5 separate regions of the Homo sapiens genome follow, and regions 2, 3, 4 and 5 are each linked to region 1. The links come from fine-mapping of genetic effects on plasma protein levels. A gene starts in region 1. Each other region holds a variant in brackets. All regions are shown on one strand. Distances are between the middles of the regions.

Region 1 (6,677 bases):
GCTCTTTAAGCAGTGGCATCTATAGATAAAAAGGCTAAGGGGACATCCCATTACTGGGTATATACCCAAAGGACTATAAATCATGCTGCTATAAAGACACATGCACACATATGTTTATTGTGGCACTATTCACAATAGCAAAGACTTGGAACCAACCCAAGTGTCCAACAATGATAGACTGGATTAAGAAAATGTGGCACATATACACCATGGAATACTATGCAGCCATAAAAAATGATGAGTTCATGTCCTTTGTAGGCACATGGATGAAATTGGAAATCATCATTCTCAGTAAACTATTGCAAGGACAAAAAACCAAACACCGCATGTTCTCACTCATAGATGGGAATTGAACAATGAGAACACATGGACACAGGAAGGGGAACATCACACTCTGGGGACTGTTGTGGGGTGGGGGGATGGGGGAGGGATAGCATTAGGAGATATACCTAATGCTAAATGATGAGTTAACGGGTGCAGCACGCCAGCATGGCACATGTATACACATGTAACTAACCTGCACATTGTGCACATGTACCCTAAAACTTAAAGTATAATTAAAAAAAAAAGAAAAAAAAGGAACAGGGACAATCTTAAAAAAAAAAAAAAGGCTAAGGGAAAACAACAGTTTAAGAAAATAAGAAGCCCTCCCAGCTATTTCCGTAGGGCTCCCCTAGTAACAGAGCTTGTGAAGAAGAATCCATTTCCTTGCCTTTTCCAGCTTCTGGAGGCTGCCCACGTTGCATGGCTCATGGCCCCTGTCCACCTACAAAGCCAGCAATTGCATCATTCTGACTTCTGCCTCTAACATCACATTTGCTTTTCTGATTCTAACGCTCTTGCCTTCCTCTGCCACTAACAAGGACCTCTGTGATGACATTGAGCCCACCCAGATGATCCAAGCTAACCTTCCTCTCTTAAAGTCAGCTCATTAGCCACCTTAATTCCATGTGCATCTTTAATTCTTCCTGGCCATATAACCCACGTAACATGTTCACAAGTTCCAGGGATTAGGGCATGGGCATTTGGCGGTGTGTGGGCAGTGCCATTATTCTGCCTCCTACTCCTTCACACAGCATGCAAGGCTGTCCACCAAGTAGATGCCAACTGTCTTTCCAGCCTCATCTTCCACCATGTACCATGTATTGGATATATATTGCTGCATAACAAGTGACTTTAAAACTTAGGGGCCTAAGACAACATTTATTATCCCACAGTTTCTGTGGGTCAGGAGTCCAGGGAGGGTTTACATGGGTCCTCTGGCTTAGGAGGGTCTCTCCCAGGGCTGCAATCAAGATGTCAGCTGGGGCTGCCTTCATCTCAAAGCTCACTGGGGAAGGGTTCTTTTCTCCCTGAATATCGGCTGGAGGCTACTCTCAGGGGCCATATGTGGGCTTCTCCATAAGGCAGCTCACACTTAGCAGCTGCCTTCATGAGAGCAGGAAGGGCAAGAGAGAGAAGGCAAGCAAGAGGGAAATCGGTCTTTTGCAACCACATCCCATCACCTTTGCTGCATTATATTCATTATAATAGAATGTGGCCCCAGGCCAGCCCACACTCTAGGGAAGAGGACTACACAAGGCATGAATACCGGGAGGTGAAAACACAGGGCCATGTTAGAAGTTGTCCAGCACACCCCAGTATGTACCCTGTGCTCTCATCTCACAAAACTCACCCATGTTTCCCAAGGGGGAAAAAATGCTTTATTACCCATGTCTTACATTTGCTCATTAATTCACTCATTCAAAAAGTATTTTATTTCTACTGTGAGCTAGGTAGTGTTGTAAGGGCTAAGGATAGAGCAGTGAGCCAAAGAGACAAAGCCCCTCCCTCGTGGAGCAGACATTCTAGTAGGGAGATAAACAAACGATAAACAACCACACACTTAGTGCGACAGAGGGCAATGAGTTATAGCAGGCGAGGGGCATGAGGGGTGTCAGTGGAGGTGAGGATGTAGGATCTTATGTAGGGTGGCCTGGGAAGGCGTCTCTAAAAGCTTACCTCTGAGCAGAGACATGAAGGATGTGAGGAAGCCACCATGAGGCTATTTAAAAGAAGAGGGTCCTGGGCTGAGGGGGACATCATGTGCAAAGGTAGCTGATGTGTTCAAGGGGCACAAGAAGTTCTGTGTGATGGGAGCGGTGTGAGCAAAGGGGAAAACGCCTGGAGCTGAGGTCAGAAAGGAAACCAGGAGCCAGATCTTCTAAGGTCTTATAGGTCATGAAAAGGGCTTTGACTTTTATGCTAAGATGGGCGCCACTGGAGAATATCCCCTTAAAATGAGCTACTTTACATGCAGGAAAAAAACAAACAAAACTCCTTTCTTTATAATTTCAACATACCATTTTCAGTTCTCCCTTATAAAGAAGTATAATTTGCATTATAATGTAGCTACACATCTGAAATATGTATTCTTAATGGATCTCACATTTTCTAATTACTTACTTTAAAAGATAATATCTGAAAGCTTTGGGTGTTTGAGATGGCTTTTATCTCCAGATAAGGAAAGAGAAATCAAACAAAACCATTTCTGGGAAACCGAGGTCCATTTCTTGCCTAAAGTCAAACAACTTCAAAGAGTCTAGGCTAGAATCCAGGTCCAGGTAGACATCATTAATTTCACAAAGCCAGATGTCACCTGGCAGATCCCTGCCTGAGAGCCTAAAAGGACATGTTGTAAAGCAGGTGTCTAGGATCATAAAATGAGCTGATGCCTATGAATGGCCTAAATCCCAGTGAAGTAGTTACTAAAAAGCAGCCTGGTAACTGATTGGATACAATAAGGGCTAGAAGAGGTCTTGTTGATACTAGCACATTATCCAAACTTCCTGATGTCTGACCCAGGCCTTTGGTAAAGGACATTTTCTCAACATTGCCTTCACTGCATACCCAGCCCCAGGTTTCTCATATGACTGTGCAACCTAGAAGTCACCTTCAGACACCTTGGAGGGTCTATAGTCGGTAAACTTAGATAAGCAAATGAAAATTTACTTACTTGTATCAGGAAAGGAGAGGTCAGCACAGGGGCAGTTAGGAGAGGCTGGGTTGGGGACAGATTATTTAACAAAGGGAAGCACATATAAGAGAAGGTAAAGAAATATTCCACTTGCAAATCGCGGTACCTGTGGATGAGAGACATAGACGAGAGAGTGAGATGGCCTGGTTTGCCCTCTACCTCCTGAGCCTTCTCTGGGCTACAGCTGGGACTAGTACCCAGACCCAGAGTTCATGCTGTGAGTATGATGTTTTTCCAAGGAGGTCAGGGAAGCAGTTGCCCTGGGGAAGGGGCTGTGACCTCTGACACTGAGTGGTTGAAAATAGCAATCACTATAGGAATTCCAAAATGGGTAAGTCTGAGTGTGATTGTGTGCTGTTCATCCTTCCTGACTTAATAGCATAAGTTCTTTGAGAGACAAGTCTATATGTTTTTTATTAAGAGAGATGGGGCCAGGTGCAGTGGCTCACACCTGTAATCCCAGCACTTTGGGAGACTGAAGCAGGAGGATTGCTTGAGCCCAAGAGTTCAAGACCAGCCTGGGCAACATGGTGAGACTCCATCTCTACAAAAAAAATAAATAAATAAAAATAAAAAATTAGCTGGGCGCAGTGGCATGCACCTGTGGTCCCAGCTACTCAGAAAGCTGAGGTAGGAGAATCGCTTGAGCCCAGGAGGTCGAGGCTGCAGTGAGCTATAATCACACCACTGCACTCCAGCCTAGATGACACAGCAGCACCCTGTCTCAAAAAATCAATAAATAAAAATAATAGAGATGGAAGTACTACTGCAGGAATAATGGTTGATGGTACAAAGACAGACACTCAGTGGCTATTGTGACCAGACACCACTACATACTAGTGAGAGATTTTGGTACTCACTGAGGATAAATTATATCCCAAATCTTTAATACTCTTCATGAAAGAGTAAGGAAAAAAATGAATGCAAGGAAATCAGTGATTTCCAGGAAAGTGATAGAAACTATGAGAAATGTCATGAGCCATATTGCTTGAAGTTACTAAATTTAAAAATCACTTTCTTAAGGATATGGATTATTTGAGAAGATGTAGAAACTAATTGTCCTCAAAAGTAAAATCTCACCATTTTCTCCATTTCTCTTTAGTGACTTAGGACACTAATGCTAATCAAGTGTTCTCCTAAAAGGCATCAAAGATGGCCAGGCGAGGTGGCTCACGCCTGTAATCCCAGCACTTTGGGAGGCCAAGAAGGGTGGATTACCTGAGGTCAGAAATTCGAGACTACCCTGGCCAACATGGTGAAACCCCATCTCTACTAAAAATACAAAAATTAGCCTGGCGTGGTGGTGCACACCTGTAATCCCAGCTACTCAGGAAGCTGAGGCAGGAGAATCACTTGAACCTGGGAGGCAGAGTTTGCAGTGAGCCGAGATCGTGCCATTGCACTCTAGCCTGGGCAACAAGAGTAACACTGTCTCAAAAAAAAAAGAAAGAAAGAAAAAGCATCAAAGACACGGGGATAATGTTTTTGAGAAGGAATGAGGGTTAGAAGGTGAGTAAATGGCTTTCCTCTTCTCAGCCGTTCCCTCAGCACAGGAGCCCTTGGTCAATGGAATACAAGTACTCATGGAGAACTCGGTGACTTCATCAGCCTACCCAAACCCCAGCATCCTGATTGCCATGAATCTGGCCGGAGCCTACAACTTGAAGGCCCAGAAGCTCCTGACTTACCAGCTCATGTCCAGCGACAACAACGGTGAGACATCTGAGCCGCTCGCACTCTCCCTGAATCTCACACATCACATACCACCTCCAGATTCCAACTCAGCGTCCTTCCCACCCCAATGCTGCCTCTGACTGTAAATAAACTACCCAAACACCTTTCCTTACATACCTGGAAGGTACCTGGAAAGAAACATGTGTGAAGTCAGAGCATTCATGGAGGAGGTCAGTAAAGCAGGGAGAGCTCTGGACTAGACGTCGAAAGAGCAGCCTTCTGGTTCTGGCTCTGCCACGTCATAACTCTGGGATCTGAGACAAGTCACTGGATACTGCTCAGCCTCACCTTGCAGATGATTGTAGTAACAATAACCCTACTACTACTAATAGCAATGATAATAATAATAAAATCTCTGTTCTGCCTATCTCCCAGGAGCTGCCTGCAGGCTCAAGTTAGATAAAGTTTAAATTATTTTGCAACTGTAAATTTCTGTATATAAATCTATATGAGTATTTTGCTGCTTTTCTAATCAAATACCAGGGATTCTCAAATACCAAATACTAGAGTCATCAAGTTACACAGAGGCCACTAGATTAAATATTCCCTTACGTATTCTTCCATATTTTTTTCTTTGGAAAGACAGATCAAAGAACTGCTCATATTATTAAAAAGTCAAAATGCTCTAGATAAAAAGCAGAGAACTCATCACTGGCTCCTGGAGAGCTGTCCCCTGAGGATGTCTCTGTCTAACCGTTGTGTTCTCTTCTCTGCAGATCTAACCATTGGGCAGCTCGGCCTCACCATCATGGCCCTCACCTCCTCCTGCCGAGACCCTGGGGATAAAGTATCCATTCTACAAAGACAAATGGAGAACTGGGCACCTTCCAGTAAGACCTGACTGGAAGGGAGAAAAGAGTCAGGCATATGGTTTTACCTAAGAATTTTAAACCCAGAAAGGAAAAGGGTGGGGGTGGAGAGAAAGGCAAGTTAGGGAAGAGACAATGTATCCTTCACTCTGGTCCTTCTGATAATCCAGACCAGAAAGATTCATTTCCAATCCAAAATGAACTAGAAAAGGTCATGATCCCAAGGACACAAGCTTGTCCAGCCATCACCTGTCTAAAGACACAGAGTCATCCCTTTTATTCTTTGCAGATGCCTGATGACATTCTTTTGAAAAACACTGAAGTTGCTCTTTGCCTATGCTGTGTCTCTCTTTGGGGGCAGGTTTTCTAGCAATTTCCTTTTCAAAGGCTTGGCTTTTCCTTCTTTGCAAATGTCCTCATCGTGGTGACTGTGAGTCTGATGAAGGTTCTCTATCCCCTTCGGAGGCCCCAACGCTGAAGCATCAGCCTTCTATGGGCCCAGTCTAGCGATCTTGGCACTGTGCCAGAAGAACTCTGAGGCGACCTTGCCGATAGCCGTCCGCTTTGCCAAGACCCTGCTGGCCAACTCCTCTCCCTTCAATGTAGGTGAGTAGGTCACCACTACCCCGAGCTGGGAACATCAGAGGCATCGTGAACTGAATGGTGGAGCTGGCAGGGAAGTGACAAAGGAGAGCGTCCCATGGAGGAGGAGCTAAGGATGTGAACGTGCCTGTGGATGGGAGATATTTACCAGATGTTTGTTGGGCAGGTGAATTGAGGAGTAAGTGAAGGAAGAGGGGGTAGTATTATGTAGAAACAAGGACAATTGATAATACTTGATATGTCTGGCAGCTACAGAATCTCCGCTGGGAACAATAGTAATGCCATTCAAGTCAGAAGTTCTTCCCAAATTAAATATGAATGTCTTGCTTCAGTTCTCCTCTGCATCCTCTCTTTAATCACTACTGATGCTCCCACACTCCATTCTTTTCGATGCTTCTCCTCATTACATCCAAATATCCTCTCTCCATTAAACAGCTACTCTCGGAACCCTAACTCGTGATATTTCCCTTCATGGCAACTCGGGGACCACCTTGCGTCTTTGTTCTGCAAGCATA
Region 2 (6,677 bases), 800 kb after region 1:
CAACTTTCCCTGTAAATTGGCCTCCATTCAGCCCCTGCAGGTGACCCCTGCCACCTCAAAGGGCCCTTAATCTGTGAGTGTCAGCCTTGTCCTTTTCCTCCCCTTCCCCCTTGAACCCCTTTCCCAAATTAGTCTTATGCTTACGGGAAGAGTGTTAACATGTGGCATTCATGCAAGCTGCTCATTAACGAAGGAGTGTTTTAAAATACTCACATTTCCTTTCACCCTATGAAAGCAGCCATGGTGTCTGAATTGGACAGTTCCTCAGGCCCTTTGGACCTGCCTGGCTCCACCAGTCCCTGTCTGTGTGCCTACCTGTTTTTGAGGTCGGATAATAACCATCTGATACCCGGGCCAGGAGTCCACCAACACCTCCATGTTGAAGGGGTTCCCGTGATTGATGTGAAACAGAGAGCCATACACCTGAAGGAGGGATGAAAGGGAATAGGAGAGGTTGAGATCCCCAGAGATGGGGGTCTGTATGTGAAGAGGAAGAGAAAAATGGAAGTCAGGAGACAGCACTGGGACCAAGTTGGTGATAGTGTGATGAGCAGCATCTCCAGGACCATACTGATGGACGTGAAGTCACCAGCAAACAGGCAGAACTCCCAGGGAGGTGTCCTTGTGATACCACAGAGCTACTGTGCAGTAGCTGGGCACTTGACAATGCACTTAGCACTTATATTGTATGGATTCATTCAGTGTCCACAACAACTTTAATAGGTGGCTACTAATATTATTCCCATTTTATTAATGAAAAGACCAAAGATAAAGGCATAGAAAGCTAAAGACACAGGCACAATGATATCTGACTAAAAAATGGCAGCCTTGCAATGCATATTTATTGAATCTGGCCCCAAACCGATGTTCGTAGCCACCATTCTTCACCACCTCTCCAAATGAGTGATAAAATCTGCAGAGTCGGCCTAGTTGCCTGTTGCCGAGGAGAAGCAGCAGCTCTTAACATGCCTCCTTTGTCCCCAACCCCATCCTGTTTCCCAGCTCCAACCCTCTGCACAAAGTCAGGAAGGACGAGATTCTTGGGCCTGTTATTTTCTCATCCTCAACACCCCTACTCCCATACCCCAACCTCCCACTGTTCCTTCACCTTCAGGGACTCAGGAATGCTCCTTGCTAAAGATTTGAATAGGGCCAGCAGCTGCTCAGAATTATTCAATAGAATCATTTTGTGGGATGCTTCAGTCCTCGAGCCCTTCAAGAAAAAACTCTGAAGAGAAGTGAAGGGAAAATGTTAAAGGACCAGATGAAATTAAAATGCACTTTACACATCTCCATTCAAGTAACACTCATGATGTAGGTACTGTTAGTATCGTCTTCATTTTGAATACGCCAAAGCTTAGAGAGACTAAATAAATTTCTCAAGTTCTTACAGGGATAAATGACAGAGTCCTATCCAAAACCCATGCATTTCCTCTCTGGTGGAATGAATTAAAAGTGAATATTAAGAGTTCTGTGAGCCTCCCACATGCCTGTAGCAGAACACTCCACCACCACCATCATAATGTTTCTTTTATTTTGGTCATCAGATGCCTGAAGAGTCTTCTTTCTTCTGGAATAGGAAATATCTAAGAACAGTTGTGACTGGAAACCTCAGAGCAGGAGTTGGCAAAGATTTTCTTTAGTTTCTTAGGGCCAAATATTTCAGATCTATAACCATTTTGAAATTTTTCCCAGTTTCATTACAAAAATAAGAAAAAAGCATAGAAAATTTGGAAACATATCTGTAAATTTCCTTTGAAATAACACTTGGAATTCTTTTTTTTTTTTTTTTTTTTTTTTTTTTTGAGACGGAGTCTCGCTCTGTCGCCCAGGTCGGACTGCGGACTGCAGTGGCGCAATCTCGGCTCACTGCAAGCTCCGCTTCCCGGGTTCACGCCATTCTCCTGCCTCAGCCTCCCGAGTAGCTGGGACTACAGGCGCCCGCCACCGCGCCCGGCTAATTTTTTGTATTTTTAGTAGAGACGGGGTTTCACCTTGTTAGCCAGGATGGTCTCGATCTCCTGACCTCATGATCCACCCGCCTCGGCCTCCCAAAGTGCTGGGATTACAGGCGTGAGCCACCGCGCCCGGCCTAACACTTGGAATTCTTACAAATGTGCCAAAGAGTATAACAGTTGACATTCTATAGTGCCAAACCGGTTCTTAGCCAAAAGGGACTTTACTGAGAGCCCTCATTTTTAAATGTAGTTCAATGCATTGTTTTTCATTTGGAATGTTCCACTCTAAGTTATCTTTAGTAAGATTTTGCCATTTGTGTAAGACTTCTCTGCCTTCCAGTCCTAATGTATAAGCCAGAAAGAACTCAGTTTTTCAGAAATTAAGGATTCCAGTTTTACATAAAATACTGACTTTACTCTCAGGTTCTTTTGATTAACTTAACCAATGAATTTTCCTATCTAGGTACACAAGAAAAATGAAACAAATGGGTAGAACACAAAAATCCCTGTGAATTTCCCAAAGCCGAATTTTATGACTGCTGCGACATTACTGCTTACTACCACTTCCTTTATGACCCAGTCAGCTGTTAGTGGCCTCTACTGTTAGTGGCCTCTAAGTGGATCCAAGCCAGTTAATTCCCAGATCAAATTCATTCCTAGACCCAGTCCATTTTCTGTTGCAACTCCAAAACCAGTTTGGATCACAAATTTGCACAAGGAAACTCAGAGAGCTCAAAACACAAATGTGTGAAGCTCCAAAATGCAAGAGGGAGCTTACCTTTGATCCTCAGCTGCTCTGAGAGATCAGTGGACACAAGTGGATCCCGCAGGTACCTTCTGTGTTTACTCAGTGCTCCTGGGGATACTAGAAGCTCCACTTCAGATTCTGCTTCTGACACAATCTGATAAAATAAAAACTTCAGCTGACTTAAATTTAAAGGAGATTAGTTGAGCAATGAACAATTCATCGATCCAGCAGCCTTCAGAATCACAGCAGATTCACAGAGTTTCCAGGGGTGCCTTGTGGTCAAAACAAATTTATAGGGAAAAAAAGTTAAAGTGACATCCAGGAACCGGAAATGAGTTACAGAAACAGTGAGATTTCTGTCACCTGGGCGTTTGCCTTATTTAAACACAGTTTGAGCATTCAGCAGTCTATGAGTGGTGATGTAAGGCTGCTGGGACTGGCCAGCATTCAAATATTGTTACAGGTGCAGACTCCTAAATTAGGTTTTCAATTTTGTCTATTAAGCTAGGTTACTCTACACCCACAAGGGCTCAAATGAAGCACAGAGTCCTTCTCAGACCATATTTAGTTTGCTTTAACACTCTGTAGCAAAATTCATTGAAAGGATTGTCTACAAATGCTATTTCCAATCCTCCCCCTAATCTTATCTAACTGGGTTTTTGCTGCTACCATTTTACTGAAACATTTTTTAAATCCATCAGTGATCTCTATGTTATTAAATCCAGTGGTCAATTATTGCTTCTGTTCTTAATAGATCATTCTTTAAGACTTTCTTCACTTGGTTTCCGAGAAAACACACTCTCTTCTTTTCCTTTAACTTCACTGGTTATTTCTCAGTCTCCTCTGTGGACCCTTCTTTTCTCCCCAACTTCTTAATTTTGCATCACTTTAGAGTTCAATCATTGGCCTTCATTTGTATCCACACTTACTCCCTAGTAATCACATCTGTTCCCATGGCTTTAAAATCAATCTGCTTGCCAATGACTAATACATTTATATTACTATTAAAACTCTTTTCCAAACTCAAGACATATGTATCCAATAGCCTGTTTGATATCTCTTGGATTCCACCCAATAGCCATCTCAAACTCATTATGTCTCAGATCAAACTCCTTATCCACCCTCTCCACCCAGCCTACTTCACCTGTAGTCTTTCTCAATTAAGTTGATGGCAACTCCACCTTTTCACCTATTCAAATAAAAACT[C/A]TTGGAATTATTCTTAAGTATCTTTTCCCCTCCCACTTTACATCCAATCCATTATGACATTCTGCTCATTCTGGTTGGGAGAAAAGTCTTCATGGCCTCTCACATTTCTGCATGTCTTAGGAGCAGAGACATTGACAGCCTTTGCTCCTATCCTTTCAAGGATGTTTGTAAAGAGTACAGCTTGGAAGCTGGAGATACTGCTTTCTTCTGAAGCAGAAGGCAGTTTTGCTGCAACACACATCTATTGAATTTGTGACATTAATCTGCCTTCCTGTATTTCCTCTGTAGGACTTGTGGAGCAAAGATGACTGACACAAACATATAAATCATTCTGCCTGTTGAAGGCATATAAAATCCTGCCTTTACCTGGAAGCTTGTGTCATCTGCCAGCATTTCTGCATCTGTGCCCCTGTAAACTTTTAGATGCTTCAGAGTTCTTGGCAGTCTTTTCTGGATGGAGAATGTCTTTAGTCTTTTCTCTATGTAAAACCAGAACACTCCTTTTAAAACAAAAGCCACATTTTGTTATTCGTTGTGCAAGTCCTGCTGTCACTCCCAATCTCATTCAGAGAAAGATATATAAAAGTCTTATAACAGCCCTCTAAGTTCTCCATGACTTAGAATCCAGTCACCTCCCTGACATCCCTCCAGTCATGTCCCTGACTTCAATCTCTTTGCCTTCTCTGCTTCAGGCACTTTGCTGTCCTTTTTCTTCTGCTTGCATTCTGTTTTCTCATTATACCTATAGAAAACCTTATTACCCTCTTTAAATCTTCACCTTAAAGCCACTTGCTCAATGAGGCCTCCTCTGACCATCGTATTAACAATTACAACTGTTCCCCTAGTTTCTCTGCAATGCTCCTGTGCCCCATTGTCATTCTCTGCCTCTTATCTTTTTCTTTTTTGACAGGGTCTCACTCTGTCACCCAGGCTGGAGTGCAGTGGCTGGATCATGAGTCACTGCAACCTTGACCTTTCAGGCTCAAGCATCCTCTCACCTCAGTCTCCTGACTAGCTGCAGGCATGAATCAATGTGCCTGGCTAATTGTCTTATTTTTATGTTATAGAGATGGTGGGGCGGGGGGGGGTCTTCATTTTTCAGACTGGTCTCAAACTACTGGTTATAGTTTTATAACTTTCTGTGCCACACTCTGATGCCCCAAAATATCTAGCAGAGACAAACATAAAACCCCGAAAAAATGTATGCTGACAATTCTGAAGACATTTCTATTTTTATCTTACAATAATTTTAATGCTAGCTTCTTAAAAATTTACTTAAGTAACGTGAATGTAAAAAATACTTTGGACTTATTTACTTAATCTAGGAGTGTTCTTTTATGTATAAGCCAATTTGGTAGTCACAACATATAATGTAATACATGTGCATACACATAAACACATCTAGATGTATATACACACAAAGATCCAAAAGCTTTTACCTTGGAACTCTAGCCATGAGATAGTAATACAGTCTCAACTGTCTGCAAACATGTCCACATGGCTGAACTTTGTTAGCCTTGATAGGTAATCCAGGGAAGGCTGTGAAACAAATTTTAAATAAAATGAGTTTCTGTGGCAGTTTGATTTTTAAAGGCCAAAACTCCCTATACTCCCAAAACACTGGGGTCAAAAACGGCACCGCATGAGATCATCACATATTAACCTGGCCCGACCCTGCTTAAAACAGCAGCACAAAATCCCACTTTCCCATTCAACAGCAAACTCCAGATTCCAAACTATACTGGAGCCAAACAGTGTCACAAAAGAGTACCAGTTTATCAAATTCGAATTTCCCATGACTGTATCAGACACATGCAAACAATTACTAAAACACAATCCAACTGCTGCAGCATCAAACAAGCCCCAAAAGTCTACGATGTGAAAGAGTTGTGGTGCTTCCTCTCTCCATTGGTTGGGCTCAATCGACCTGAAATAAAAATTCCTTCAGAATTTCTCAGATGGAGAGGAGCAGATCCCACTGTCTGGTTCCCACAAATGACACTCACTTGCCTGGATACACACACAATGACAAACAAGCTCCTAAGAGTGTCCGTACTGAAATAGTCAGGGTACTTCCCTCTCTTCATCAATTGGGCTTGTTCAACCTGCAAGTGGAAATTCCTTTAAAAATTTCCCAAACTGTGAGGAGGAGATCTTTCTGTCTGGGCCCACAGAGGAGAGTCACCTATCTGGATGCAAATATCAAATTTCAAAGGCAGTTCTCCCAAGGCAATCAGGAACATGGTTGGGGCCAGCTGTGGCTGGCCCTAGAGAGAGGGTACTCATCTCTAGCCAAAATTGGGTAAGCAGCTGCTTAGGAGGACTTTGAGATTCCCCGCCCATGGTAGCTGAGCCAAAGTGTTCCTGGTTGGGGAATCAAAATCTGTTAGTGAAACACCAGGGGTGTGGTCTAGCTCCAGCTGCTCACTGCACAGAAAACCAATTCATATCAACAATTCTTGCCAAGGGAGAAGGCTGAATCAGATGCTGTAGGAGAGGAGATGGTAGTTCAGTGTCAAATCCATCTCCCTGACCAGCTAAAATTATGAGTTTACATAGCAGGGAGGAAAAGTAACCATGTGTAGAAAAACAGGAACTCAGGAGACCTAAGGAAGCAATCATAATGTATGAGGGGTCTGGTGTGCCATCATCTGGATGGAATCATCTGGTGAATTTCAGTTCTTTTATACTTTTTGAGGGACCTAGGGGTCCTTTACCAAGGATGAAACTCATAGAAAACAAATAAAAGTTTCAAGCTTTAAGAC
Region 3 (6,677 bases), 1.3 Mb before region 1:
CCACTCTGGGTGCCTCCCACCATTTGGCACAGTGAATGGGCTTATTATTCTTGAGTCTTCTCACTTGACGGCCCTGCCTCTGGACAAAGGGGGGTCAGATGGAGTTTTTCAGTGGATTGAGGAGCATTCAGTTGTTATGTAAATATTTATGTAAAGATGACAGTTTCCTTCATGAAGCAATTTCCCTATGAGAGATTGTACATTCCCCCTATGTATGCTTATGTTTGAGGACTCTTGTCTAGATTGGTTTGGAGCTTGTTTGGAGCCACATCCTTTGCTTCCGTCCAGGATCAGCTCTTTCAGAGTCCTCTGGTTCTAGACCTAGCTGGCCGCCTGGCACAGTTGACAGGCAGCATTTCCTAACAATAAGTTGTGAGGGAGTGGGAATTAATACTGCCTGGTGCCAGACCTGCTGCTTGGTGGTCTTGTTTAATTCTCATTTAATCCTTACAACCCCATGATGTTGGTAGTATTAGCCCCATTTTACAAATGAGAAACAGAGAAAGGCTGAATAATGTGCCCATGGTGATATAGCTAGTGAAAGGTCAGGATGGGATTGAAATCTAGGAGTTTTTATCTCCAAAGCCTCTTCACTTAGTCTTTTTTGTTTGTTTGTTTACTTTGAGATGGAGTCTCGCTCTGTCGCCGAGGCTGGGATGCAGTGGCGCGATCTCGGCTCACTGCAAGCTCCGTCTCCTGGGTTCACGCCATTCTCCTGCCTCAGCCTCCTGAGTAGCTGGGACTACAGGCGTGTGCCACCACGCCCAGCTAACTTTTTTGTATTTTTAGTAGATAAATATGGGGTTTCACCATGTTAGCTAGGATGGTCTTGATCTCCTGACCTCGTGGTCCGCCCGCCTTGGCCTCCCAAAGTGCTGGGATTACAGGCGTGAGCCACCGCGCCTGGCCCCTCTTCACGTAGTCTTAACTATTTATCCCTGGTGGGTGGGAGGAATCTCCAACCCCAACCCAGCCCCAACCCCAGCAATTCCTTAGAAAGGATGAAAGCCATCTGGGGGCAGTGGCACAGGCCTGGACTCCCAGCTACTTGGGAAGTGAGGTGGATTGCTTGAGCCCAAGAGTTTGAGGCTGTGAAGTGAGCTACTTTTGCGTCCCTGCACTCTAGCCTGGGCAACAGAGTGACAGAGCGAGTCCTTCATCTCTTAAAAGAAAAAAAAGAAAACTAAAAACGCAAAAAAATGAAAACTAAAAACGCCTTCCTCTCCATGGTTTACACTGTAACTTTTCCACTTGTGGGGAAAGTCAGTTCAGTGCTGCTTTGGATCAGGTGAGAAGAACTTGATGATTTGATTTTTTTTTTTTTTTTTTTAACCTCCTGTGGGAAGTCAGGAAACAAAAGAGTCTGGTACTTGGACGCACAGCTGGAATCATTCCGGGAAAAGAAAACCAGATTAGGCCTGCAAATATTTCCTCATTCAGCAGCATGATTAGGAAGGTTTCTAAGGCAACAGCAGGTGTTTCTGACATACGGGGTAAGATGGGGCCAGTTCCTTTTTAACATGTGCAGGTTGGACTTTGCAAGTTGCCCTGGTAACAGCTTCTTCTGGTACCATAGGTGGATGTGGGGAATTTGTAAGAAACCAAGGGACGTCACAGCTCTTCTTGCAGTGTGATTTCGGGCTAGAGGTCACTGGCAAGTAAGTGTTGTCTGGTAAGGCGAGGGGAGTGCTGGGAGCCGTGCTTCAGCTCCCAGGTGCTGGAGCTGGTGGAGGCTGGAATCCTCCTGCACGATCTCAGCAGCCATTTCACTTGACACAAGATTGCAGCCCAGGGGTTGCAGGAGTAACGCCAGGAGGTGGAATAATTTATATTTGTTCAGTGCTCAGGAGTTTGCAAAGCTCTTTTTGGGCTGTTCGCTTATCTGAGCCACACAGCAACCCCTAAGGTGGGATTATCATCATGGTGCCCCATTAAGGAAACCAAGGTTAAAGGACTTGATTAAGGTCACACAGTTAAAGAGCTGTGGAGCCAAAGCACAAACTCAAGGCATCTGTTTTCAAATTCCATGTCTGCACAGGACAGAATTCTGTCCAGACACACAATCTGGGGGGAGAGTTGGCATGAACCACTTAGCGGCAAGGGGTGAGGGGCAGTGCAAGTTGTCTCTAGGGCTGGCATGCCACACTCTCATCTCAGTGCCCTCACTGTCTAGAAAATGCTGCATTTTGCAGTCCAGCTTTTTTTTTTTTGTTGAAGGTTATCCTTGGAAAGGATCTCTGATCAGTGGAAACGATTTGTTTTTGAGCTGATTAGCTTGTTGAGGAAAACCATCATTGCATGACTTTTTTTTTCCCCGATAAAAACAGATCTGGAAGGCTGCCCCAAGTTTGAACCCTCCCCAGAGTTCCCCTTCCACCCCGGTCTGCTAGGAAGTTCTGTGGCCTCCTTGCTGGGGACGTGGCGCTGCCTTTGGCGTAAATCCACTGGCCCTGTGCTATCTTTTACCAGATCGTGTACCCTGTGCTCAAGACCTGTGGGATCGATTTAGTCAAGATATAAAGTAATGGAAAGAAGTTGAGACCAGAGATCAAAGCAACAGGTGCCAGTTGGCTGGTCCGGCTGCACCCAGAAATGCTGCTTCCTTGGTTCTGATAGCAAAGCTCCAGCGAGTTCAGCCTGTGCCCCCACCCCAACCTCCTTTCAGTGCATTGTGGCAAATGGTGGGGCTCCAGGATTCTTGTGGGATGTCTTTATCACCTCTCCCCTCTGCCCCACCCCCTTTTCTGTGATCTGTACCCTTGCACTTGTCTCCCATAGAGGATATGGCATCAATTCAGGTCACACCTGAATTGTGGGTTTTGATGGCCCACCCAGTTTCTCACAACTTTGAGTTGAAATTTAAAAATGGGAAGATGCACCTAGATGTAGATTTCTGGCTTCCCTTTGGAGAGCTGATGGGTCTGGGAAAGCTGGCAAGGCTGCAGGAGGGGCCTAGAATCACCAGGGCCGCTTTCCAGCCATACACACTCTGCCTGTCGCTTGGCCTCCTACTACCAGCCTGGCCTTTGTAGGCCACTGGGGTTGGGACCTCTGGTGGGGGTGAAAACTGCAGAGAGACAACTTTAAAAAGCAAAAGGAAAAAACAAAAGCAAGTGTTCTTCCTTCTCAGGGGCTGGTAGTGAGGAACCAGGGGCACTGTTCCTCTTCTCTGTGCAAGGAACGCAGACTGGCTCACGCATAGCTTTCTCACCTTGTTCCCTCCCAGCCAGATCACTTTCGAGTTGAT[G/C]ATATCACCCCAGAAAAGGTGTTTTCTGCTGTACCTGTGAACCTGTGCAGCCGCCTGCCCCGCAGCCCTCCCTCCTCCTCCCCTCCCAGCCCCTTGGATCTGCAGTGGCTCCCGCCTGGGCTGTGCTGCTCCTGGCATGGCATGCGCAGGCCCCTGTGGCCAAGCTTTCCAGGCCCACAGAGCGGCCCATCTCTCCTCCTCACTCTGTTGGTCTCTGCCTCTGTTACGCTGCTCTCATCTGTATTCATGATGAATTATTGTGAGTATTTTTGACTTTTTAAAATGAAACTGAGTTACTTGAGAGTTAGGATCAGCTCTTACCTGTGAATGCCATGTCTGGCTCATAGTAAGAACCCCCCAAATATTTGCTCACATCCTGCTGCCCCCATTTATCCTTCCTCCTTTGATGTGGGTCTCACAGTATTCTTGGCAAATGCAATTGCTTCATAAGTATTGATTCATTAAGGGAGTGGAGAAATGCGAGCAGGCGGGGGTAAGGGGAAGAATGCCCGTTCTCTGTCCCCACGTCTTCAGTGACTTGTTCTCTCCTTCCTGTCTCCATCACTTTTTGGGCAAACGTTATTGTGAGCTATCTGACAGCCAGTCTGCTGGGCTTGGGTTGACGAAGATGAGTGAGACATTCTCCTTGTCTTCAAGGGGTCGATTTATTCTCACCCTCAACAACTCCCTACTCGTGCGCAGCAAACCCTGGGGGTCACTAGAGCAGTGCTGCATCCTCCCGGGCATCTTGGCAGGGGGAGGGGCTCTGGGCCAGGGCTCTGGTACTGAGGGGCCCAGGTAGTTGGACTCGTCACACCCTCCAGAAACAAAAGCCCATGGACTCTGGGTCCCCGAAGGACATCTCAGGAACCCCCTAGTTCTCTACTTTGAGACATATGCGGTGGCTGGGGTCACTCTGAGAAGTGTCACTTTGGACTTGTCCCTTGCGTTGGGTGATGGAGTCAGACACCACCAGCAGTGGATGACCAAGCTTCAAGGGCACCTTCTTAGCAGCTCTGTGGGCTGTGGGCAAAAGAGTTTCCTGTTCTCCCTTCTCCATATTAGGGACCCAGGGAAGTGCTTGCTGCTTCCAGCCTCGCTGATGGCTCTGAGGAGCAGGTGATGGCTGTGGCATTGGTGAGAGAAAGGGACCTGTCATTTCCAGGGGTGGGTGATGCTGTGGTAAACCCCACAAGGTGGCACTTGCCTGCCCAGCCTGAGATGCTGTATGAGGGCGGTGAGGTGGGCGTCCCCAACCCGGAGGCAGGGACAGGGAGGGATGGGATAATTGGCGTGCTTGCGTGGGCTCCTAATCTCTGGATCTCGGGCCTTATGGCTAAACACCTTATCCTCACTGCACCCCTCTGATGGGCCTGCCGAGCAGGTGGGGCAAAGATGTTGGTGAGATGAAAACACCCGCACAGTGGGGCAGTGTCCTTCCTGCTTCTTTCTGGGATTCATTTTATCTCTGAAATAGGAGGCACTTAAGCTCATGCTGGCTTTACATACTAGAGAGGTTATGTAAATTAACGGGAGAGTTTACAGAGGGCTTTGATCTCTTTATTTATTGTTTCAATTAAAGACCAGTGTGATAGTACAGAGGGCTTTGATTTCAGAAGAAAAGAGCCATGTAAGGGTTTGTTTGCCCATTTTACAGATAAGGAAAGTTGAGTCCCAAAACGAACATCTGGCCTCCAGCTATTTGGCAAAGTTGGGAGTAAGGTCCTGAGCACTCCTCATTTGGGACATGTTTGTCTGGCACATGCCAGCAGTGCCTTCTGAAATGGGAGCCCCATGAGCAGAGGAGGTAGCAGCTTGGTGGAGGCCTCCGGTCTCCTTCCCAGACTCAGCCTCCGTGTAGGGGGGACTCCTGGCCCGTTAGAAGCTTGACATCGTGGCAGGCACTGTTTTCACATGAATCTCCCCTGCCGAGCTGGCCAGAGCTTGGGCACTCGTCTCATGAGCTGTGGCCGTGACGTTCCGCCTCTTGGTCTTGACCGTATGTGACGCTGCCTCCCTCTGTGATGTGCATTGTCACGTCACTGCAAATCTGAAGCCTAAATCCTGGCATGAAGACCCCTGTCTTGTGCACCTGGGTGTCACCTGTCCCGCCGTGCCCACACAGAGCCAAGCCTTAGGAAGTGCCCTTGGGGTCCTGGGGGGGCTCACCCTATAGAAAAAACACTGCCTGCGTTCTCCTCCTGCTTCTGCGGTGACTGGGTGACAAGGCCCTTCCTCCCCTGGGGTCTTTGCTTTTCCTCTGTCAGATGGGGTTGCCTCCCCCTGAGTTCCCCCAGAGTGTTGGGGAAAGGGGAAAATAAGATAATAGATGCCAAACTAGTCAGACCCAGGTAGCCTAGTTAAAATGAAAACTTCATTAAAAATTAAGAATTGGCTGGGTGCGGTGGCTCACGCCTGTAATCCCAGCACTTTGGGAGGCCGAGGTGGGTGGATCACCAGGTCAGGAGATCGAGACCATTCTGGCTAGCACGGTGAAACCCCGTGTCTACTAAAAATATAAAAAAATTAGCCGGGCGTGGTGGTGGCTCCTGTAGTCCCAGCTACTCGGGAGGCTGAGGCAGGAGAATGGCGTCAACCCAGGAAGGCGGAGCTTGCAGTGAGCCAAGATCGCGCCATTGCACCCCAGCCTGGGCGACAGAGCCAGACTCCGTCTCAAAAAAAAAAAAAAAAAATTAAGAATCGGCCGGGCGTGGTCGCTCACGCCTGTAATCCCAGCACTTTGGGAGGCTGAGGCAGGTGGATCATTTGAGGTCAGGAGTTCGAGACCAGCCTGACCAACATGGAGAAACTCTGTCTCTACTAAAAATACAAAATTAGCTGGGCATGGTGTTGCACGCCTGTAATCCCAGCTACTGGGGAGGCTGAGGCCGGAGAATCACTTGAACCCGGGAAGCGGAGGTTGCCGTGAGCCAAGATTGTGCCATTGCACTCCAGCCTGGGCAACAAGAGCGAAACTCCATCTCAGAAAAAAAAAAGAATTGGCTGGGCACAATGGCTCACACCTGTAATCCCAGCACTGAGGCAGGTGGATCACTTGAGGTCAGGAGTTCAAGATCAGCTTGGCCAACATGGTGAAACCCCCATCTCTACTAAAAATACAAAAATTAGCCAGGCTAGTGTCAGGCACCTGTAATCCTCAAGAGGCTGAGGCAGGAGAATTGCTTGAACCCGGGAGGTAGAGGTTACAGTGAGCTGAGATTGTGCCACTGCACTCCAGCCTGGGCGACAGCACAAGACTCCATCTAAAAAAAAAAAAAAAAAAAAAAAAAAAAAAAAAATTAAGAATCCTGGAGATTCTAGAGTTCTAGGTCTGGAGGAGGATTTTAGGACTCAGGGACTCCATGAGGCACATGTTGAGAATCCCTGGACCTGAAAAGGCATTTTCATTCCAAACTGCATGACCTTGGGC
Region 4 (6,677 bases), 1.3 Mb before region 1:
AGACCTTAAAAACACAGGCAAACAAAGCAAAAATTAACAAATGGGATGTAAATCAAGCCAAAAGGTTGTGCACAGCAAAGAAAACAATCAACAAGGTGAAGAGACAACCCACAGAATGGGAGAAAATATTTACAAACTATTCATCCAACAAGGGAATAACAACCAGGAATATATAAAGAACTCAAACAACTTAATAGCAAAGAAACAAATAATTTGATTAAAAATGGGCAAAAGATCTGAATAGACACTTCTCAAAGGAGGATACAAATGGACAACGGGTGGAGAAAAAAAGACTCAACATTCGTAATGATCAGGGAAATGCCAATTAAAATCACAGTGAGTTATCATCTCACCCCAGTTAAATAGCTGTCATCAAAAAGACAGAAGATAACAGATGCTGGTGAGGAGACCAAGAAAGAGGAATGCTCATTCACTGTTGGTGGAAATTTAAATGAGTACAGCCTCTGTGGAAAACAGAATGCAGATTTTTCAAAAAACTAAAGATAGAACTATCATATGATCCAGCAATCCCACTGCTGGGTATATATATCCGAAAGAAAGGAAATTAGTCGGCCGGGCACGGTGGCTCACGCCTGTAATCCCAGCACTTTGGAGTCTGAGGTGGGTGGATCACCTGAGGTTGGGAGTTCGAGATCAGCCTGACCAACATGGAGAAACCCCGTCTCTACTAATAATACAAAAAAAATTAGCCGGGCATGGTGGCACATGCCTGTAGTCCCAGCTGCTCAGGAGGCCGAGGCAGGAGAATTGCTTGAACCCGGGAGGTGGAGGTTGCCATGAGCCGAGATCGTGCCATTGCACTCCAGCCTAGGCAACAAGAGCAAAACTCCGTCTAAAAAAAAAAAAAAAAGAAAAAGAAAGAAAGGAAATTAGTCTATTGACGAGATATCTGCACTCCTGTTTTTATCGCAGCACTATTCGCAGCAGCCAAGCTAGATAGACTAATTACCCAGATTTGATCATTACGCACTGCATACTTGAAATCAAAATATCCCGTGTACCCCATAAATGTGTACAACTATTATGTATTCACATATACATTTTTAAGACTGGCTTTTTTCACTTAGTGATATGCACTTAAGTTTCCTCCTTTTCATGGCTTGGTAGCTCATTTCTTTCTTTTTTTAATTTTTATTTTCGTTTTTATTTTTTGAGACAGGGTCTCATTCTGTTGCCCAGGCTGGAGTGCAATGGTACCATCTTGGCTCACTGCAACCTCTGCCTCCGAGGCTCAAGCCATCCTCCCACTTCAGTCTCCCAAGTAGCTGGGACTACAGGTACACACCAGTATGCCTAGCTAATTTTTCTCTATATATATTTTTTGTAGAGATGGGGTTTCGCCATGTTGCCCAGGCTGGTCTTGAACTCCTGAGCTTGATGGATCCACCTGACTCGGTCTCCCAAAGTGCTGGGATTACAGGTGTGAGCCACCGTGCCCAGCCGATTGCTCATTTCTTTTTAGTGCTTAATAATAATCCATTGTCTGGATGGAGTACAGTTTATCTTCTTATTCACTCACTGAAGGGCATCTTAGTTTCTTCCAAGCTTTGACAATTATAAAGCTGCTATAAATAGTCATATGCAGGTTTTCGTGTGGGTATAAATTTTCAACTCCTCTGAGTAAATCCAAGCAGTGTGACTGATGGGTAATATGGCAAGAGTATGTTTAATTTTATAACAAACTGCCAAGCTGTCTTTTAAAGTGTCTGTGCCATTTTGCATTCCTACCAGCAACGAATGAGAGTTTCTGTTGCTCCACATTCTCACCAGGATTTGGTGTTCTCAGTGTTCTGGATTTTGGCCATTCTAACAGGCCCATACACTTACTTTATAAATAAATTAATGGCATATAAAGGGGGACTGCTATCTACTAAAAGTCTTTTTTTTTTTTTGAGATGGAGTTTCGCTCTTGTTGCCCAGGCTGGAGTGCAGTGGTGCAATCTTGGCTCACTGCAACCTCCGCCTCCTGGGTTCAAGCGATGCTCCTGCCTCAGCCTCCCAAGTAGCTGGGATTACTGGTGCCTGCCACCACGCCTGGCTAATTTTTGTATTTTCAGTAGAGATGGGTTTTACCATGTTGGCCAGGCTGGTCTCAAACTCCTGACCTTGTGGTCTGCCCGCCTCAGCCTCCCAAAGTGCTTGGATTACAGGTGTAAGCCACCGCGCCCAGCCCATTAAAAGTCTTAAGAAACAGCCACCAAATGCAACACATGCGGATAACCTCAAGATCTTGATCCTGGATCTGAATATATCAACTGTTAAAAGGCATTTTTGAGAGAATCAAATAAATTTGAACATGGACTGGTTATTAGGTGATATTAAAATTGGTAATTAAAAGAAAAGTTGGTAGTTTTGTTTGGAATAAGAGAGCATTGCCGCTATAAATATATATATTTGAATATATATATTAATTACAGCTGTGTATATATATATATATATATAATATGACCCTTATCTCCTAGAAATGTACAATAAAGTATTTACAGTGAAATGGTAAGCTGTATGCCTTAAAATATTACAGCAAATATAAATATATAAAGAATAAAATTTTTAAAAAGTAAGAGTGTCGCCAGGTGCGGTAGCTCATGCCTATAATCCCAGCACTTTGGGAGGCTGAGGCAGGTAGATTGCTTGAGGCCAGGAGTTTGAGACCAGCCTGGCCAACATGGTGAAACTCTGTCTCTACGAAAAATACAAAAATTATCTGGGTGTGTTGATGCATGCCTGTAATCCCAGCTACTCAGGAGGCTGAGGCATGAGAATCGCTTGAACCTGGGAGGCGGAGGCTGCAGTGAGCCGGGATCACGCCAGTCCACTCCAGCCTGGGCAACAAAGTGAGACAAAGAAAAAAAAAAGGGGGGAGTGTGTATATAAAACAAGGATTTGCAGAAACAGTGTAATTCTTGATGCTGAGTGATGGAATATGAGGTCCATGACACTATTCATTTTTACTTTTATGTTTGAACCTTTTTTGTAATAAGTTGAAAACATTTCCATTTTGAAGTTTCTGTCTTTAGTGGTATCCCAAGGGTCCCAAGCAAGGCCGACCTGGGTGGGCCCCACACTGGCTGAGTTGCTCCTGAGCCTCCCCTGCCCACGGCTCCGGCCCTCGTCCTGCTGTCTCCCACCACTACCCCTCGAGGTTGTCTGATCATCAGCTTGAGACTTTGAGGAGCCGTATCAGGGCCTGGAAGTGGAAAGGATGAGAACATTTTTAGAAACAACAAAATGGGGGTCTCCCTCCCTGGCTTTGTCTGCTTTAGTATCATCTGTAGGGAAGGGGCAGGGGCCCGGATAGGGAGGGAGCCAAAGACTGAAGCAGTGGAGGTGTTTTGAAGGGAAGGGAGGAGGGATTCATAACTAAATAACAGAGAGGAGGGCAGCTTGCACAGGATGCAAGACAGACTGGGATGGGAGAGAAGCCCAGGGGCGTGAACAGAGGGTCTGCAGAGCGGAACAAGATATTGGAAAAGGGCCTCCTGTGGCAG[C/T]GGGACATATGCAGTGAGTCAAGTTTAAACAGAGAACAGCCAGCTGTGGGGAGGAGAGAGCTAGGATTTCTGTGGTACCTACCAGCAGTCCAGTCGCACTTGGATCTTCTGGTCAAATGGTTCTGGAGGCTGCGTCCTTCCTGCTGGAATTCCTGCTCCAGACATGGAGGTGGTAGAGATGCTTACTGCTGGTGAGCCATGGGAACGAGGCCATATTCAGTGGCCCTTTTATTACTCTGTGGCCATTGGCATCATCTCAAGCTGGACAGCAAAATAGCAGGTCACCCAAAACATCTCTCCTTTTAAAATATTGTCCAATATATCTAACCTTTCTTGGCACGTCTTGGACCTAGAATTTTTTTTATTGTTATTCATTCCTTTAGTAAAGGTAATTCATCAGCCTGACTCGAGTTTCTGTTGAAGAATCCATGAGCTTCCCAGTTGGTAACTTCTGCCTTATGGCTGTCAGATCTCATCCCACAGAATCCAAGTGCTGGAATGTTCCATTGGGCAGGAGTGCAAAGGTCCTTTAGCTCCTGCATGTCAGTGACGTGGCACCTGGTCTACCATGCTCCATTCTGAGTCCAAGGCAGATATTGCCAGCGAACCACAGCACCCCCTACCACTGGATGTGGCCCCAGAATCCCGAGCAACATACAATCCCTTCAGCCACGTGTTCTAGCAACCAGCGTCGGCACTGGATTGGGAATGATTGCTATTCTTGGACAAGTCCAGTCTGTTATCCCGGAGATGGGGAAACTGAGAGCTGGGGTGTATAATTTACAGAAGGGATGCAAGGTAGGTTAGTGAAGTGCTGGGACCCGGGGCTTCTGGCTCTCAGGTAATCCTCTTCCCACCTGGGCATAGGCTTGGGGAGCTCTGAGAAGGGAAAGGTGAGAGAATGCTCAATTGCAGTCCCTGCTGCCAGCTTCCGTAGGTCACTTTCGGGGGTCTGCAGGTGCCAGAGCTGAAGTTCCTTCCTCTTTCTCCTTAAGTCCGGCTCCAGTTCTGTTGCCAGACCTGCCATCTTATGGCAGCAGGAAAGCAATATTGGAAGCTGCCAGACACAGTGGGGGCAGCCCCGGCTGGAGTGGCACCAGGAAGCAGGAGGCAGTGGTGCCGGTTAGTGCTTGACTTGTGCCCAGCTTGGCAGCCCCACAGCTTCCCCTCCTTGTTCATAACACACTGACCCTTGTAAGTTGGTGTGACACTGGCCTGTATTTAGAGTAAGGAACATCTTCTGGTCAGACTTCGACAATTGAAACCCAATGTTCTATTTCATCTTTAGGGGATTCTTGGCTGAGTTGGGAGGGTCAGACAAGGGTGCATTCAAGGACTTGTTGCCTCTCTGAGGCTCAAGAAAGACCTTGGAACTTTGAAGGCCCTGATGAGGGATGAACAACTGATGCTTTCTGGGGGCTTCACTGTATGGAGACAAAGAATGGAGCAAGGAAAACCCACCGGGAAAGCCTGGGCATTACTTGGGTCTCAACTGATTTCAAGTTGAATTCTAGCCACCAGACATCATGGTCAGGTGCTGATGCCCCATGGCCATCTTCCAAGAAGGAATGGAAGAACCAGACTCTGCCAAAGGAGCAGCCACCTTCGGGGGGCCCCTGTGATAGCACTGGGGGAGATTAGTCAAGAGCGTTTACTTTCCTCTTGGCCCTGTGGGTGTGCTGGGCGTTCCAGCAGGAGGACAAGCAAACCCCAGGGTTCCTGGTGGTGGCAGTGGCACCCACTGTGCCTCTTGGAGCTGGAGCTGGTGATGATAACCAGCTTATCTACATGGCCCTGGGCCCAGAGCAAACTCAGCTCTATTGACACCTCTTATTTTCCCGCCTCAGTTTGCACATAGCCCCAGGGCTTGCCATTCTGGGAAAGGGGTTGATAATTCATTGCTGGTAACTTGCTCCGAGTCAACAAATCAAGTGTGTGATGAGGTCATGGTGTGTAACTTGTGGCCTCGATGGCCTGGTTGACGATGGTGTGTTCAGGTGTGGACGGAAGACTGGAGATGGAAAAGTAGCCTTTTATTGAACTTGGTTACCTTGGGCCTTTGCAATTCCTGTTCTCCCTGTCCAGAAGGTTCTTCTCCCAGCTTTCTGCGTGGATGGCTATTCAGCCATCATCTCAATGTTCCCTCCTCAGTGATGCCTTCCATGGCCACTCTGGTCTCCCAGCTGTAGAGCCTGACTTGGAGGAGCCCTGGAGACACCTATTGAACGCCTTTTCCCATGTGCTCTTTGTGGGCGCCCTGTGAAGCTGATAATGTCTCCAATTTATAGATGAGGAAACTGAGGCTTAGAGGAGCTAAGTAACTTCCTCAAGGATTTATGGCAAGTAAGTGGTAGAGTCAAGATTTGAACTAGGTCTGTCTGACTACAAATTCTAGGCTCTTGGCCACTCTGCAGCTCATTAGTACTGGGCTTGGGAGGTCAGGAAATGAGGCAGAACAAAAGGAGGAGAGGACGGGTGGGAGGAGGAAGGGATAATTGAGGACAGGTCTCATCTATTAGGAAATATTCATTCTTTCAGTGAACACTTGAGGGTGCTCGAAGCCAAGTTCATAAATTGCTCGCTGTTTATGAATAGCCTTGCAGACAGGGCCATGGAGGACATTGTACAATTTGTGCCCAGAACACAGGTGTCAGGCCATGGGGGAAGAAGACCTGAAGTCAGGTCATGATTCACTGCTGAGCCATGCACCTGGGCAGCTGCAGCCACCTGGAGGAGGCCAGCTTTTTCTGAATCTAACGAAGGCTCCAAATGGGCTAGCAGTGGCCCTGAAGTCCAGGAAACAAAACATTTAGAAAGGTAATGTGGCAGCACTGCAATAGAGGCATGCCCTGGGCATCCTGCAAAGAGGATGCCCAATGCTGCCTTAGGTGGAAAGTTAGGAAGTCTCCCTAGTGGAGGTGGCAACTGAGCCGAGTCTCAGTGGATGAGAGAACTTTGCCAAATGGGCATGGGGAGGAGGGAACACCAAAGAGGGCAGCACTGGCATGATAATAGACCTAAAGGATTGTAAGTCACCTGGTAAGGTTAGATGGTAAGGGTCATGGGCCCAGTTGATGCATGATATTAGTCAGCATGGGCAGTATATGCTGCAGTAACAAGCAACACCCAATTTCACAATAAGAAGGTTTCTCTTTTGCTTTCCCTATA
Region 5 (5,000 bases), 240 kb after region 1:
TCATAAGTGAGAAGAGTACTCTGTGAGAAATTATGTAGGGTAGATTTTTTTTTTCCTAATTAAATGGGATGAAATTACCTCTCTAGTGCCAGACTTTCCCATGACCATGGGAAAGTATCGTTTTTCTCATTTAACCCCTTTCTTACTTAATAGATAGTTGGATAACCTTTATTTTAACATCATTTTTCTGATATGTTTAACACTATCTTCAGTGCTGTGATTCACACAAAGTAAAAAGACAAATTACATTCTCCACTTAGGGACTGCAGGAAGATTATCTCCTAGGACTGACCAGTCAGCCAGTCAGGGTGCTTGTGTTTCTGATGTCTGGTCGTGTATTCCTGGAGACTGTGTGCCTGGTTTTCCAGTCCCCTTGTGATCAGGAAAACCTCATTAAGTCATACAGTCAATTAAATAGTAAATACGTATACTTTTTAAATAAAACAACTCGGCACAATGGTCTCCTGAGAGTGAATGCCACCTTTTATCCAAATCAGAGGAACACCCCAATCCATAATTTTTTTTTTACCTTGATGTAAAAATTTTGCTAAGTAAAGCATCCCTTTATAAACCTAAACCTTTAGTTTCAATTTTTCTCTTGAAAATGTACTCATCTTTGTTCCTTGGGGAAATTCTTCCCTAAGTTCTAAGTGTCCAGAGTTTGTGTTAAAGGGAATGATCTCTTGGAAGTCAGAGATGAGTTCTGTTTTCATTCTTTACTCTCTTGCTGCACTGCCTGTGCCCTTTTCCTAGCCAGTTATTGCTTAAAATACATTTTTTATCCCTGTGTTGTTTCCTTTGTACCTTTTAGTATGATACTAGCAAGGCCTTAAGTATAATACACGTGTTAAAAATTAACATGCTAGAGCATCACAGCTCTAAACGGGCAAAGTTATATCAAAGGAAGAATATGTTTCACTCAATTACTTCTTTAAAAATTAATTTAATTTTTGATTCAAGGGGCACGTGTGCAGGTTTGTTACATAGGTATATTGCGTGATGCTGAGGTTTGGGCTTCTAATTATCCCATTGCCCAAGTAGTGAACGTAGTACGCAACAGGTAGTTTTTCAACCTTTGGTTCTCTTCCTCCCCACTTTTGGAATCCCTAGTGTTTATTGTTTCTGTCTTTGTGTTGGTGTGTACCCAATGTTTAGCTCCCACTTATAAGTGAGAAGATGTGTTTTTTTTTTTTTTCTGTGTCTGCATTAATTCAGTTAGGATATTGGCCTCCAGTTGCATTCATGTTGCTGCAAAGGACATGATATTGTTTTTTTTTTATGGCCGTTTCAGTTTCTTGACTGCTTAGGATAGAGCTTTTCTAACTGTCAAAGTGAATCTGATCAGAGAATTAAATTTGACACTTTTAGTATATTCATCTGCCATCTATTGAGCATGAGCTGTGTTCCACGAACTGTGCTAGTGGATATTGCTGAGGGCAGATATGGTCCGTGTCCTCAGGAAGATCACTATTTAGTGAGGGATGGAGAATTAAAGGGATCATTATGGACTATGTTGAGTGACTTGATAGAAATGAGCACAGGCTGCTATGGTATAGCACTTTGGAAGTATTTGGCTCAGACTAGGAAATTTCTCTAATTTCCTCAACTAAATTCTGAAGGAGCAGTGAGAGTCTTCCTATGAAGAAAGGCAAGCTAGAGCTTGGGGCCTGGAGTCCAACTGCCTTCATGACCTATCTCTGTAACTTGAGGCAACCTGCATCCCGTCCAACTGCCTCTATGACCTATGTGTATAACTTGGGGCAACCTGCATCCTCTGTGACATCAATTCCTTATCTGTAAATGGTAATGATACTAGCAGATACTTCAAAGGCTTGTTGAAAGGCTTTTGTCAGATAATTGATGTGAAGTGCTCGGCAAAGTGCCTGACATATGATTGTCTCTGGCAAATTTTAATTACAGTCAGTATTACTAAAAGGGAATGAGGCCAGGCATGGTGCCTCACACCTGTAATCCCAGCACTTTGTGAGGCCGAGTCGAGTGGATCACCTGAGGTCAGGAGTTCGAGACCAGCCTGGCCAACATGGTGAAACCCCCATCTCTACTAAAAGAAATAAAAAAATTAGCCAGACATGGTGACTGAGGCATGAGAATCACTTGAACCCAGGAGGCGGAGGTTGCAGTGAGCTGAGATCGTAGCACTGCACTCTGTAGCCTGGGTGACAGAGCGAGACTCTGTCTCAAAAATAAATAAATAAATAAATGAAATAAAAGGGAATGAGGGAGAAGCTTTGATCCAGGTAGTGGTATGGGATATTCAGATCTATCCCTTTCCCCAAAGTCTGGGAACTGCTGGTAATTGACTGTTAGTCGAGCAAGGAAGCAGCTAGCATGAGGCTTGGGAGGAGTTAATTGTGGGGGAGAGAAAGGGCTGCAGATCATACCAACTAAGCTTGGTAGTAGTGGATTAGAAGATGAGACCAATTTGGATGCAGTCATAATTTTTTTCTTTTTTTTTGAGACAGAGTCTCGCTTTGTCACCCAGGCTGGAGTGCAATAGTGTGATCTCAGCTCACTGTAACCTCCGCCTCCCGGGTTCAAGCAGTTCTTCTGCCTCAGCCTCCCAAGTAGCTGGGACTACAGGCGCACACTACCACACCCGACTAATTTTTTGTGTTTTTAGTGGAGATGGGGTTTCACCATCTTGGCCAGGCTGGTCTTGAACTCCTGACCTTGTGATCCACCTGCCTAGGCCTCCCAAAGTGCTGGGATTACAGACATGAGCCACTGTGCTCGGCCTTTTTCTTTTTTTTTTAGAGACAGAGTATTGCTCTCTCACCCAGGCTGGAGTGCAGTGGCACCATCATAGCTCACTGCAGCCTTGAGCACCCAGGCTCAAGTGAGTCTCACTCCTCAGCCTTCTGAGTAGCTGGGACTACAGGCAGAGCTGCTACACTCAACTTTTTTTTTGAGACAGAGTCTTGCTTTGTCACCCAGGCTGGAGTGCAGTGCACA[A/G]TCTTGGTTCACTGTAACCTCCGCCTCTTGGGTTCAAGCAATTCTTCTACCTCATCCTCCCAAGTAGCTGGGACTACAGGCGCACATCACCATGCCTGGCTAATTTTTGTATTTTTAGTAGAGATGGGGTTTCACTATGTTGGCCAGGCTGGTCTCGGACACCTAACCTCAGGTGATTTGCCTGCCTCGGCCTCCCAAAGTGCTGGGATTAAAGGTGTAAGCCACTATACCCAGCCTCTTTTTTAAATTTTTATATCTTTTTTTAATTTTTATATAGAGATGGGGTCTTGTATGTTGTCCAGGCTGATCTTAAACTCCTGGTCTCAGGTACTCCTTCTGTCTTGGCCTTCCAAAGTGTTTTACATACGTGAGCTACCATGCCCAGCTTATAATTATAATAACTAACACCTTATTGAATGTTTATTGTGAGCCTAATGTGGTTCTAAGTGCTTACATGTAAAACAACGACTCTTTGAGGTAGTTACTCTATTGTTACTATTTGTTTATGGAAAAGGAAGATGAGGCACAGAGAGGTTAAATAACTTACCCTTATTTGTACAGCTAGATAGTGGGATGGATCTGTGATTTGAGCCCTACCGGTCCAACTCCAGAGTATGCACTCTGTACTGTTTCTGAGTAAGGAGGATGGAAAGACATGTACAGATTTTTAAAATATTAAAGAAGAATCAATAGGACTTGATAACTGGCTGTGAGGAAGGAAGCAAAAGTAAGAGAAGGATGCCCCTTAATTTTCTGGCTTGGACAACTGGGAGGGCCCTGAAAGTTGGATTGGGGAACATCAAAGGGAAAAGCAGAGACAACATAGGAAACTGATGAGGCTGGGTGTGGTGCCTCACACCTGTAGTCCCAGGTGTGGATCACTTGAGCCTGGGAGTTGAAAGATTAGCCTGAGCAACATGGCAGAATCCCACCTCTATATTAACTACAAAAATTAGCTGGGCATTGTGGCTCATGCCTGTAGTCCCAGCTACTTGGGAGGCTCAGGTAGGAGGATCACTTGAACTTGTGAGGTTGAGGCTGCAGTGAGCCATGATTGTGCCACTGCACTCCAACCTGGGTGACAGAGCAAGAACATGTCTCAAAAAAAAAAAAAAAAAAAAAAAAACTGAAGGTGATGAGTTCACTTTGGGATGCATTAATTTTGAAGTTACTTTGAGCCGTTGAATAGGGAGTTGGATATTCTATTCTGAATCTCAGTAAGTGCTGGGCTAGAATTAGTGATTTAGTAGCCATTAGCCTATAGGCAGTGGTTGAAACCATGGGAGTAAATATCCTGTTTACCTTTTAGCTTCTCTGTAACAGGGAATAGATTTTTAAGCTTACGTTGCTTGCCTCCTTCCTTTATTTATTTATTAAGCAAACTTTATCAGATCCCTATTATGTACAGAGCAACTAAATTAGGAGCTGGAGATCTATATATGAATAAACTCAAAAATGTGTTTTTAAATTGCATGTGATCCATCTGGAGAGATAGAAAATCAGTCACGATACTGCTGTGCATGTGTAAAATAGAAGTTTGTGCAAAATGCAGTGGAAATGTAGAGAAGAGACTGGCTGCTTATGAGACTGGTGGGGAGATGTCACAAAGTAGCATTTGCCATAGATCTTAAAGAAAGATTTGCCCTTTCTTAGAAACAGGGGATAGGGATGGACATTCTAGGTAGAGTGAATAGCATATGCTGAGGTATGTAGGCCTGAAAGAAATCTGTGTCCACGACTGGGCACAGTGGCTCATGCCTGTAATCCCAACACTTTGGGAGGCTGAGATGGGTAGATCACTTGAGTCCGTGAGTTCGATACTAGTCTGGGTAACAAGGCAAAATTCCATCTCTACAAAATACAAAAATTAGTCGGCCATGGTGGTACATAACTGTAGTCCCAACTGCTCAGCGGGGCTAAGGTAGGAGGATCACCTGAGCCCGACGAGGTTGAGGCTGCAGTGAGCTGTGATCTGCACTCTACTCCAGACTGTGCCAGAAATCTGTGTGCAAGAAATGGTGAGCAGT

Direction of the effects. Positions count from the first base shown, and alleles are read on the strand shown. Strength reflects both the effect of a copy and how common the allele is.
For the plasma level of the protein whose gene starts at base 3,109 in region 1, C is the high allele of the variant in region 2 and A is the other (moderate association).
With allele C in place of G in region 3, the plasma level of the protein whose gene starts at base 3,109 in region 1 is lower (moderate association).
As copies of T replace C in region 4, the plasma level of the protein whose gene starts at base 3,109 in region 1 goes up (moderate association).
With allele G in place of A in region 5, the plasma level of the protein whose gene starts at base 3,109 in region 1 is lower (moderate association).

What was found. PIP is the chance, under the fine-mapping model, that this variant and not a neighbour inherited with it causes the effect. Protein levels are from antibody-based Olink assays in UK Biobank. Linkage for the fine-mapping came from a reference panel and not from the study's own genotypes, which makes the PIPs less certain.
Region 2: its variant is fine-mapped to the plasma level of the CBLIF protein (UK Biobank, PIP above 0.99).
Region 3: its variant is fine-mapped to the plasma level of the CBLIF protein (UK Biobank, PIP above 0.99).
Region 4: its variant is fine-mapped to the plasma level of the CBLIF protein (UK Biobank, PIP above 0.99).
Region 5: its variant is fine-mapped to the plasma level of the CBLIF protein (UK Biobank, PIP above 0.99).

The regions. Positions count from the first base shown.
Region 1 is chr11:59,841,931-59,848,607 of GRCh38, reverse strand. CBLIF (cobalamin binding intrinsic factor) reads left to right here and starts at 3,109. Exons shown (of 9, transcript NM_005142.3): 1 at 3,109-3,233; 2 at 4,553-4,729; 3 at 5,467-5,580; 4 at 6,025-6,165. The coding sequence starts at 3,155.
Region 2 is chr11:59,037,246-59,043,922 of GRCh38, reverse strand. All of the region lies in intron 3 of GLYATL1-AS1 (GLYATL1 antisense RNA 1), which reads left to right. It also overlaps the pseudogene GLYATL1P4. Among named protein-coding and RNA genes, the nearest start is that of GLYATL1-AS1, 18 kb to the left of the region's middle. The variant C/A (reference allele first, on the strand shown) is at 3,913.
Region 3 is chr11:61,143,232-61,149,908 of GRCh38, reverse strand. All of the region lies in intron 1 of VPS37C (VPS37C subunit of ESCRT-I), which reads left to right. Among named protein-coding and RNA genes, the nearest start is that of VPS37C, 15 kb to the left of the region's middle. The variant G/C (reference allele first, on the strand shown) is at 3,248.
Region 4 is chr11:61,173,082-61,179,758 of GRCh38, reverse strand. LOC124902678 (a long non-coding RNA gene) reads right to left here and starts at 4,920. Exons shown (of 4, transcript XR_007062691.1): 1 at 3,592-4,920. The variant C/T (reference allele first, on the strand shown) is at 3,510.
Region 5 is chr11:59,602,629-59,607,628 of GRCh38, reverse strand. The region is part of intron 3 of OSBP (oxysterol binding protein); the gene reads left to right. Among named protein-coding and RNA genes, the nearest start is that of MIR3162, 10 kb to the right of the region's middle. The variant A/G (reference allele first, on the strand shown) is at 2,974.